Homo sapiens: one gene and its partners. The protein of the gene in region 3 interacts with the protein of the main gene of each other region in a pairwise test. Each region holds a gene or a part of one and is shown on either strand. Other genes may lie near its edges.

Evidence for each region. The genes of interacting proteins can lie anywhere in the genome.
Region 1: the proteins of ANKRD36 (region 3) and EVI5L interact in a two-hybrid assay, tested with the Homo sapiens proteins (one large-scale study listed by BioGRID).
Region 2: the proteins of ANKRD36 (region 3) and TMEM132D interact in a two-hybrid assay, tested with the Homo sapiens proteins (one large-scale study listed by BioGRID).

What each region holds. Positions count from the first base shown.
Region 1 is NC_000019.10:7,857,718-7,861,217, reverse strand, and holds part of EVI5L (EVI5-like protein), read right to left. Parts: intron 3,028-3,500; coding exon 2,887-3,027; intron 658-2,886; coding exon 529-657; intron 1-528. UniProt on the Homo sapiens protein: Functions as a GTPase-activating protein (GAP) with a broad specificity.
Region 2 is NC_000012.12:129,897,526-129,901,025, forward strand, and holds part of TMEM132D (transmembrane protein 132D precursor), read right to left. Parts: intron 1-3,500. UniProt on the Homo sapiens protein: Regulate neuronals morphology via inhibition of the WAVE regulatory complex (WCR), a complex that controls F-actin cytoskeletal dynamics.
Region 3 is NC_000002.12:97,119,295-97,123,481, reverse strand, and holds part of ANKRD36 (ankyrin repeat domain-containing protein 36A), read right to left. Parts: intron 596-4,187; coding exon 489-595; intron 1-488.

The DNA.
Region 1 (3,500 bases), on a different chromosome or scaffold from region 3:
GACTCCCAAAATAGTGCAGGCTCGAGGGGGTGGGGAATGGCTCCTGCTGAATGTGTGAATGGGTCCCTGGGTGCTTTCCTTCCTCTGGGAGCTCCGTGGGAGAGTGGAGTCGATGCCAAGTCAGAGAGCAGTTGGGGAGGAACCCAGAAGCCCTGGGATGGTGTCTGCATGGGAATGTGTAGGGAGGCAGCCACAATGGGCCTGGGCCTTCCTTTCTCTCCTTCCTGTCCCCCTCCCCCATCCCCCTCTCTCCTCCCTTCCTTCCTGGAACCCAGTACTGGGGGAAACACACACAGGTGGGATGCAGGTATCCGGGAAGCTCATAGAAGCTGCCACGCTGCTGGAGTTTGCCTCATACAGGAGCGTGGGCATGCCCCGCGTGGGGTTGTGCTGTGTGTGTGCATATGTATGGTTGTGTGTGCATGGGGGTGGGGGATTCTGACCTGGGGTCACTCCCAAAGCTTATCCAGGACCCCTCCTGTGCCCCAGGGTCCCCCCGACACCTGCCCGTCTGCCTCCCCATTGCACCTTTTCCATGTCGAGAACCTTGTCCTGCATCTCCCGAAGGGCCCCCAGTGTCTCCGTCTCCCGCAGCCTCGACTGCTCCAGCTCGGTCTCCAGGTGGGACACGAAGTCTTCTGTGAGGCGGGGGTTCTCCTGGGGGAGGCAGAGAGCTGCGTGGGGCCCCAGGCCATGGCTGGGGGATGGGCAGCCTCCATGCCTGCTGGCTTCTCCCCGCCTCCCCAGAGCCCTTCAGCAGGGAGAGGGGCCCAGGCTTGGGGTGTCCTGGGCTGGACCCCCTGATGCTCAGGGCCTAGAGGTCCTGGCATCCATGCAGCTGGCCCGGTCCAGCTTCCTTCCTGGAAAGGCTGCACAGAGGGGACATTCTGAAAGGTGACTTGCCTTGGCCTTCGGATGCCCCGCGGGACCCCAGTGACTGGTTTTCCGGGATCACTGGTGAGGGTGGGAGATGGGTTCTTGCTGGGTGGTCACCGTTCCAGCCACATGGTGGGCGAGGCAGGGGGTGGGGGAGAGGCCTGGGGCTGTGCACCTGTCTTTCCACCTCTCTCCTCTGCATCCCACCCTCCATTTCAAATCAGGGAAGGATGAGGAAAGAGTTTGTGGGTATCACCCTCTTGCTCCATGCCCTGGCTTCTCAGAAGTTCCCCAGTGGGGGCCCCTGGAGTGATGGACACTGCCACCTGGACCTGAAAAAGGACACCTGGTCCCTGGGGTGGGAGCCGGGCTCCCTCTCACTGACCTTGTGGCCTGGCAGGACAGTTCTCTGGGGGACTGCCTCAGCCCTCCCAGCCACCATCCTCTTCCTGTGGGTCTCTGAGATCCACGTGTGACGGTGGCTCTGCCTCGGCCCAGATGGCCTCCAGGCCCCATGTGGCTCCTCTGGGCCACCTCATCTTGCCTGCAGTGGCCTCCCTTTGGGCCTGAGGAGGTGGCCTTGGGCCTCCCCGATCTCTGCATCCCCCCAAGGTTGGAGCTCAGGGGTGGCTGGTGGAGTCTCTCTAACGAGCCTGAAAGGCGGCCTCATGCAGTGGGTGGGATGAGCCCAGCCTCAGTTTCCCTAATGTCCATGCTGCCTCAGAGCAAGGTGGGACAAGAGTGCTCACAGACTCTGAGGGCCACAACGCCAGCATCATACGGATGTGGTTCATGGGGACAAGTGAGAAACAGTGAAGCTCTCCTTCTCCCCAGGAGCAGTGGATCCGCTAGAATCCCTGGGCCAAGGCTTGAGCCACAGTCTCTGGGCCTGGGGGCGGAGGGGGCACCTCTGTATTGGATGGCTCTTCTTTCTCAAGCACTCCATGGTTTCTCCAACCTACACCCCACTGCCAGGCCCTGCTGGGTCAGGCCAGGATGGCAGCGGGACCTACAGCGTCGCTCCCGGCCCCTCCAGGGCATGTGTCCCTGTGGCCTGCAGGGCTTAGGACTGCAGCCACTGGGGGTCCCTGCGATCAGGAAGGCCAACTGCTGAGTGCAGCTGCAGTTAAGTTTTTTTTTTTTTTTTTTTTGAGATGGAGTCTTGCTCTGTCACCCAGGCTGGAGTGCGGTGGTGCCATCTTGGCTCACTGCAACCTCCACCTCCCGGGTTCAAGTGATTCTCCTGCCTCAGCCTCCTGAGTAGCTGGGACTACAGGTGCGCACCACCATACCCAGCTTATTTTTGTATTTTTATTAGAGATGGGGCTTCATCATGTTGGCCAGGCTGGTCTCGAACTCCTAACCTCAGGTGATCCACCTGCCTCAGCCTCCCAAAGTGCTGAGATTAAGGCGTGAGCCACTGCACCAGGTCGCAGTTAAGTTCTAAAAGCTTTCAGGAGAAGAAAATCTTGGGGTGGGGCCCCACTCATGGGCCTGCCCATCATGGGACCCAAAGTTCATGGCCCTCAAGACACTCAAGGTGCCCCCTCAGCCCCACCCTGCTGGCTCAGAGCTCCCCAAACAGTCCCGGACTGCCCTGCTCCCATTCTCCATGGCTGGCCCCCCAGGGACACCTAACAATCCTTCAGACCCTGGGGACAGGCAAGAGCCTCCGTAAGGAGTCACAGCCCTGTCTGCTGCCTGTGACACAGAGGAAACCCTGCAGGGACAGCCCGGTCTTCAGAGGCCTCCGTGCTGAGGCTGGGGGTTGGGAAGTCAGATACTGCAGACACACTATGAGGTGGCAAGAAATGGATATCAGGATGTCTCAGAATGTGGAGCTGCTGGGGGAGAATCTGCGCTTGTCTCTGGGTTCCCCTTACCCCAGAAAGGAACAGGAGGGCCAGGTGCTGAGGCGGGGCAGATTATGAGCCCTGAAAGAAAACCGTTGGGCGGGGGCGGGGGCGCGGGTCATGGCCCCGCCCAGCAGCCCCGCACACCCGCCCCTACCTGCTGCTCCTGTAGCTGCCGGATGGTGCTCTGTGCCTTCTGCAGGTCCTCGGCCGCCGAGCTGCACTGCTGCCGCACCACCGCCAGCTCCCGCTTGATGACGTAGTTCTCCTCCGCCTCCTGCGCCCGTGTCACTTGCCCCTGAGAACAGCGAGGACAGGGGGCAGGGGGAGGCCGTGACCCTCGGCTCCCACCCAAGGCCCTGCCTCCCGCCACAGGGGGAGGCCCAGAGAGTGGAGGTGGGGGGAAGTGAGGTGGGGGCCTCCCGTACTCAGAGCCTGGGATGAGCGTCCCACTGGGCCTGGGGACGTGGGTGGGTGACAGGCAGGAATAGGACACCTGGAGGAGCCCGGGAGGAACAGAGCTAGCCCTGGGCTTGGAAAGCTCCATCTCCTTCCCCACTCTGGCTCTCAGTCTCTGCCCCAGTTGGGATCCTTATCCAGGGGCACAGCGAGGCCACCTGTGCCTATTCATGCCAGACTCTGCCGGTGAGGGTGAGGATCTGGGGACAGCTGAGGCCCCGGCAGGAGAGGGCTGGGCTCCCCAGGGCATTCACCTCTCCCAGCGGCATCTTCTCTAGTCCTGGGCTCTGGGGCCTCCACCTGCCTGGAGCT
Region 2 (3,500 bases), on a different chromosome or scaffold from region 3:
TTAAGAAGCTTGACCTAGGGAGGTGGGGGAGGAGGAAAATAAAAATAAAAAAAACAAAAAAGAAGCTGACCTAGGAGATAACCAAACCATTCCACACCATCAGAGAATCTCTTCTACCTCCCTGGTGGTCTTGGAAGTAAATCCCCATTTTAATCCCTTTCAGGTGTTATTTCTGATTGCTGCTGGAAAAAATAATGCTGAGAAAACTAAATAACATGATGTTCATTTATTCATTTGCTCAACAAATATCAAGGGTCATCTGTATACCAGGCTCTGAGCTAAAAACTAAAATGGTCTCAAGACCTCTCTGCACTCAGCCCCTGGCAAGCCTGGCACCATGTAACAATTCTGCCTGACAAACCGCCTGGTTTTTAGTTATTCCATATAATTATCAGAAGTCAGCAGAATGGCCAGGGGTATGGGTTCTGGCATCAGAATTCAGACTCTGCCTGTCTTTTATGTTGCTATGACTTGGAGAAGTTACTTAACATCTCTGAACTTCAACTTCTGGTCCAGTACATATCTACCCCATTGAGTTTATCTGCAAATTCACAAAAATTATCCTCATAAGTCACTCCGCACAGTGCCTGCCATACAACAATTACTCAAAACATTAGCTGGTATTATTGACCAAAGTATTTCCTGCGGCGCTCTGAATTACTGGAAAAGGCAGCATCAAACCACTGCACTGTCAGGTAAATGATTTCCAGCAATATTTCACACTCTTGGAAGCACAGTTAAAAATTGTATTGAGCCCCTGCAATGTCCAAAGCACAAAGCTAAAAATACTGGAGAGAAATCAGAGATAGAAAAAATACCCATTTTTTTGTCCCCTAGAAGAACTTAAAATTTAGGAGAGGAGGCAGAAAATAGTTGTAGAATGTCAACCTTGTGAAAGGCAGAAGTGCACTCCCCCAAAAGATATTCACATCCAAATCCCTGAAATATGGGAATGTTGGTTACTTTATTTGGAAATGTTAAAAGGCGACGTGACTAAGTCAAGATGGGAGATTATGTGGATCACTTGGGATCCTCCCAGTCCATCCGGTAACGCCAGCCCATCCTTCAGACAAGGCGAGTCTTCCCAGTTACTCTAAGTCAACTGCCAAATTATCTGCATCCAGAGACACTCGCCCCATCCTCCAGAGCACACCCACAGTGCTAACTTTATGTTTTTCTGTGTAATTCACATGTTCCCCTATCTCTCCTACAAATGGCAAGTTCTCTGGGAATAGTAACCATATCAACCTGTGCTTTTCCTCACTACGGTACTCCCTGTGCCCAGCACGGTATGGGGTGCATTGTTGGTGCTCAGAAGGCAGTTACTGTTATGAAATAGGAAAGGAGAGGGAACAAAGGAAGAGGGGAATGATGAATACGAAACTGCCCAGGTCTGAGCTTACAACTTAAAGCAACGGAGTAATGGTATGAGGCACTTTGACATCTAGAGGAATGACTGGCACTAAACATCCCTACCTAAGGACGCTTTAGTACCTGTCCTGTGTCCTCACAACACTTAGAAATAGTTCCTGCTGAGCTCTGTGTTCACTGAAGGCATGTGGCCTTTGACATTTGTTGAATGAATATGCAGATGGATGGAATGATGAATGGATGGATGAAATGATAGATGGATAGATGGAAGGATGGGTGGATAGAAGGATGGAATGATGAATGAATGGATGGATGGGCAGACAGACAGATGGAAGGATGGATGGATGGATGGATGCACGGATGGATGGATGGATGGATGGATGCATGGATGGATGGATGGATGCATGCATGGATGGATGGATGGATGGATGGATGGATGGATGGATGATGGATGGAGGGATGGATGGATGGATGGACTGGTAGATGGATGGGTGGATAATGGATGGATGCATGGATGGATGGATGGATGGATGGATGGATGGGTGGATGGGTAGATGGACTGGTGGATGGACTGGTGGATGGATGGGTAGATGATGGATGGATGGACGGATGAATGAACGGGTGGATGGATGGGTGGATGGGATGATGGGTGAATACATGGGTGGAAAGACGGATAACACCTGGATTAACAGAAAAATTGATAGATAAATTCTAAATATTGTGTAGCATAGCTTCTATAATAAAATATTTTTGAAATTTTTGTTGTTTACTCATTTTTTCTTGGCTCTTAGAATATAACTAAGTTAAACAGATCCTCAAACTTGGAATTCTACCTTTCTATGCACATAAATATTTTTAATAAAATCACATTTTGATTTAACTCTTTAATTCATACAAAACAAAACTTAGTGGTCTCTTCATTCTTTGTCTTTTCAATTTGACAGAATTTGAATGTAAGCAAAAAGCCACACTCTCTCTCTCCCCCACTAACTGGCTCCCTTCTGATATTCTTTCCTCTCCCAAAAAGTTCCTGACCCCTAAAGAAGTTATCACTGTACTTTGAAGCTCTTTTTGGTCCACAGCTTCCTTCAATAAGGGTGGTGCTGTCCTACCCAGAAGCTTCACTCTGACCCAATTAACACCCCAGTGTCATCAAATTGTGTCAAATGGAATTTCATGATGCAGATATTATTTATAAGCTCAGGGACAGTTCAGTTCATGTCGCAATGTATTCATATCACCTCTCCTCTAAGATTCTCTGATCCCTTGAAAGTTCTCACCCAGCTGGAAATCGAATATGAACTATATTTAACAGGATTTTAATTGGAAGTAAACACACAGACACACCACACACAGACAATGCAAAGTGCCTAAACTGTCTGGGGCTGATTGAAAAAGAATATTACCAAGTATTAAACATCCGTTTCAGCATATTATTAGAGGCCAGAAGCTCTACATATGGAAGCAGTTTCAGGAAGGCGCTCCAAGAAGCCCACTGCCCAGGCCATTGGCTGCACTCAGCTGGAAGCAGGCAGAGCACGTGCCCAGCGCCACCCTAGGCACAGGGAGCACGACACTGCCGCAGCCCCGCTCGCAATGTTGCAGGTCTCTCAGCGTCTGCTTCTTTCCTACCAGCATGTGCAAGGGAACATAACTGGGAAGGATGCACGTGAGGACTGTAACAAGCAACCTAAATGTGGCAACCCTCTTGACTTTGTATTTAAAAATCACCTTGCCCTCTGCCCAACTCCAATCTCCTCACCCATTTTTCCTCTCAGCCCACCCTCCATACACCTGCCCCCTCCCATAAAGTTCACAGTAATGCATTAAAGCTCATCTGCAGGCTAGCACCATTGCAAACTACATCAAGCTGCCAGCAAAGCTAGACCTTAAACATTTAAGGCCATTCCCCAGAAAAATTAGGGGCCATAGGACAAGGCTGCTGGGGAAACTCCGTGTGTCATACCATACTTCCTAGGTCCCAGGGGCATAGAAATACAAGCAACAAAACTTTATGTTTATTTGTTTTTAAAAAATATCTACAAGAGGGTGGGTTTGTTCTATAACTAATCATTTTCTGCTTATGAAATATAAACGTGTAAGGCTCAAGCATATTAACCTGGTATTAA
Region 3 (4,187 bases):
AGTCCTGTGTGAACCTAAAGCTTGTCTTCATTAAAGTTTTATCCATTTAAAGCTATCTTTTCTCCCCCTCCCCATATCAATTAAAAACAACATCAAAACACAGTAGAAATGAAAAACTAACATGAAACCCCTTTAGCTAATGTAAGATCATACAATCAAAAGCATCACATTATTACATTGTAAATAACACCACATCATATTACAAATAACAAACATCTATCAATATACAGAGCTTTCTATATATAGAAGCCTTTTATGTGTATAATGTCTATAGAGAGAGACGAATCCTGCTATACACTGTTCTTTATGTTACTCAGTCCAAATAATTGTTTTCCTACCTAAGTGATGATCTGTGTTATTTCTCACTATATCCCAATAATTACAAGTTAGTCTTCTTATTAATGTAATATTTGTGACTTGAGGGACTGCTACCACACTAAAATGACACTCAGGTTTAAAAACGACACAATAAGAACTAAGGTCTGTACCTGCCAAGATAATCAATGGCATTTACATTTGCTTTTTTCTTTAATAAAAATTCCACCATTTTCACTTTTCTTCGACTCACAGCAAATAACAGTGGCTGATATTCACACTGTAAAATAACAGCAACAATTTATAATCACAAAATTACATATTTATCAACTGAACTGAAAACCTTATGTAAGTAAGATCCTGTGAGCTTCAATATATACAATTGAAAGGTCATAAGAGGTAGTCCCTTTCTTTTCCCTCCTCGGTGCTTTTCTATGTTCTGCTCCTTCCCCTGGAAACAACCTCCTCTGCCTCACCACAAGAACTCTGGTCATCTCCAAAACTCACTTCAAACATTTCCCAGTTCCAAGAATCTTTGCTTCTGTCCCAGCATTTAGCATGGCATGTTTCAAGGATTTAATTGTTTCCCACCTGAACCAAGAGCTTCTTGAGGGCAGCAGCTGTATTTTTTTCTCTATGTCCTCAAACTCTAAGACACAGTAATAAATGTTTCAGGTATTTTTATTAATGATCTAAATTATTATCTATAGAGCGGTGTTTCTTAAACTATTAATATATTCCAAAGGATATTTACTTTACCAGAATTTGAACATTATACCCCAAAAGAGAGACTCCATGATCACCCATGTTTGAAAAATGTTACAAAACTGCATTATGTGTCTAGTATTTGAGAAATCTTTTGAACTTCACCTAATCCCTATTTGTAAATACTTATTTTGGAGAATGTTAACATTTGAGAAATGAGAGTTTCAGGGATACAGTTGTGAGAGCTTACCAGTAAAGGTAGAGGTTTCCTCTGGGTGATACACACTTGCCTCATTCTCTTCTATCGATGGTGTAAGAATCTCAGGTGACAATGTCAGGAGCTCCTGAGCACCTGAGCACCTGACATTGTCATCTGAGATTCTGACACGATTGACAGTTCATTTGAAGCCTATCTCTTTTTAATTCGGAGAGCCGGGCTCTGAATTAATAGAGATAGGCTTCGAGTGAACTTTCACTGCTTATTATTAAATAGTCCATGGGTTTTCTCTAGTAATATTTTTATCTTAGCTGTCAGAAAGCTCTGTATGAAATGTTATTCTCAATTACAATCTTAGGACCCTGATGCAAATATTTATGTAATTATAATCTTAGGACCCTGGTACATAACTCCTTTAAAAATCTATTTGTATTCTAGTTTCCAATTAATTCTTACTTTTTTTATTTTAGGTAAAATATCAATCAGAAATAAAAATACAATGGCTTATCAATTAAAGCTCTAATAATGACCTATATGAATTATTTATAGCATAATGAAAGCCACTAAATTATTTGCATCTTTTATTTATTTATTTATTTGGGATGGAGTCTCGCTCTGTCGCCCAGGCTGGAGTGCAGTGGTGCCATCTTGGCTCACTGCAACCTCCGCCTCCCGGATTCAAGCACGAGAAATTCTCCTGCCTCAGCCTCCCGAGTAGCTGGGACTACAGGAGTGTGCCACCACACCCAGCTAATTTTTTGTATTTGTAGTAGAGAGGGGGTTTCACCGTGTTAGCCAGGATGGTCTCAATCTTCTGACCTCGTGATCTACCTGCCTCTGCCTCCCAAAGTGCTAGGATTACAGGCGTGAGCCACTGCGCTCGGCCAATTACTTGCATTTTTAGGAGGCAATGCTGAAGAGAAAAATATAATGTTGTCTGCAATATGCATAACCTATGCAACCATACCATGATTCACCTTAAAAAGCTTACATGCATTCTAATGGGAAGATGATTATTTATGGTATGTATAAAGAAAAATAGTTTATAAAACACCACCATCTAAATTCAAAAGTTCAACCCGATTACCAAAGGATTTATATAAAATATAGACTCTACATTTAAATAAATATAAAATGTCTTAAAAACCTTGAAATATTTACTAAAATATATTATAAAACAGGGCTTGTAAAGTCATCCCTACAGAGGCAAGGGAGATGACCTGAGGAAGTGAAGTACCTAGGTAGGCACAGTAGCAAAATGGAGACCACATGCCTCATAGAAAGGGGCAACCTCTGCACAGCATCCAAAACCTGAGATAGGCTCAAGGGACACCAGATTGGATTCTTGAAGAGAAGCCTGGAATCCAGATCTGTGCACGAGTCTCCTAAACCTTCCATGTTGAGACAATTTGTAGACACAAACTAAACACATGTATGGGACACATTTGGACTATATACCTTGTATTTTTATATTTGCTATGGATATGTCTCCAAGCAATTGTATGTAACACAAGTATTTTCATGTAAAATACTTCCTTTCTTTAGTTTCAGATTTTTTTTTCCAAAATAGGCCCAAGAATACAATAAAAATTGTTACTAAGAGTCATAATACCCACTTTGAGCACTTTTACAACATTCATTCATTTATAATTTATGTTTAATTTTCCCAGATTGTTCACCAAATGGATAATTAGTTCATAAGACTGCTGCAACTAAATTATTAAAATAATATTAAATTATAATTCTAGTTTCTATATTGTAACCTAATTTTTTTATTTTAGGGAAAATATAAATCAGAAATAAAAATACAATGGCTTATCAATTAAAGCTCTAATAATGACCTATATGTATTCTTTGTATTCTTACTAACTTCATGGTTTTCAGTGTTTAAAACTGCTATCCTGATTATGCCACAGTTCTATGTACTTAACTGACATACTGAGGCAGTCCATAATAGAGCTTCAGCTTTAAAAAAAGGTTTAGAATTTTTTGCTATTGTAATTGAGAGAACCCCGCTTTTAATAATGATGTATTGACCTAATCACCAGAATGATAACAAAGAGACTCAGAGTCCTGAAAGAGTCAGTCTCTACTTATTAAAAGAGTCCACAATAGCAAATTTCTAATGACCCTATGAATGGCAGTGAATAAGTGATGGTGGCAAAGAAAAGGTGTTATTCTTATGCTGATAGATACTGCAAATAATAGTCCTTTCCACTTCCCAACCACAGAGGTAGAGACAGGTAAAAGTCAGGCCAATATTATTGGAAAGGAGAAATTTAAAGGAAGCAGCACCTATCTCCAGCTCTTCTAGAGATTTTTTGTGTGTTTGAGATATGGGAATTTATATTACACTTATCTATTCAGTGGTTCTTAACCAGCAGCGTATCAGTGTCCCAAGAAATGTTTTATTGTTGTTGTTGTTGTTGTGTTGTTGCTGTTAGAGGCAGTGTCTTAATCTGTTGCTCTGGCTAGAGGCACCACCATGCCCAGCTTCAAGGAAATATTTTAAAACATACATGCCCAGTAATATTTAATAGTAAATATTAGATTTACCATATTAAAATCTTCAGGGGATATCCTAGACTTAGAGATTTGCTTTTAATTTCCCCAGGTTACTGCCATGCACAATTCTAACTGCGAACCAGCACAGTTGATAATCACTTCAGTCTCATTTCTCACCCACGTGGCAAATTCCCTTTATCGTTTGGGATTTGGCCGAAAAGAGGAAAGAGCAAAAGATAGAGCCATTCACTGAAGACTTCATTTACTTTTCCTGGGTAGGGGTAGGGAAGAGACTAGTAAGCTCAAAATCCAACTTGATTTTACTATTTATAAGCTCCGTATCTCCCACCTGCCCATCAAGACATTCTGGACTTGAGAGTAGAGTTTAGATGCTTATCTGAGTGGCTGTTTCTGCCAGAATTGAATAATGTCCATTAATTATGTG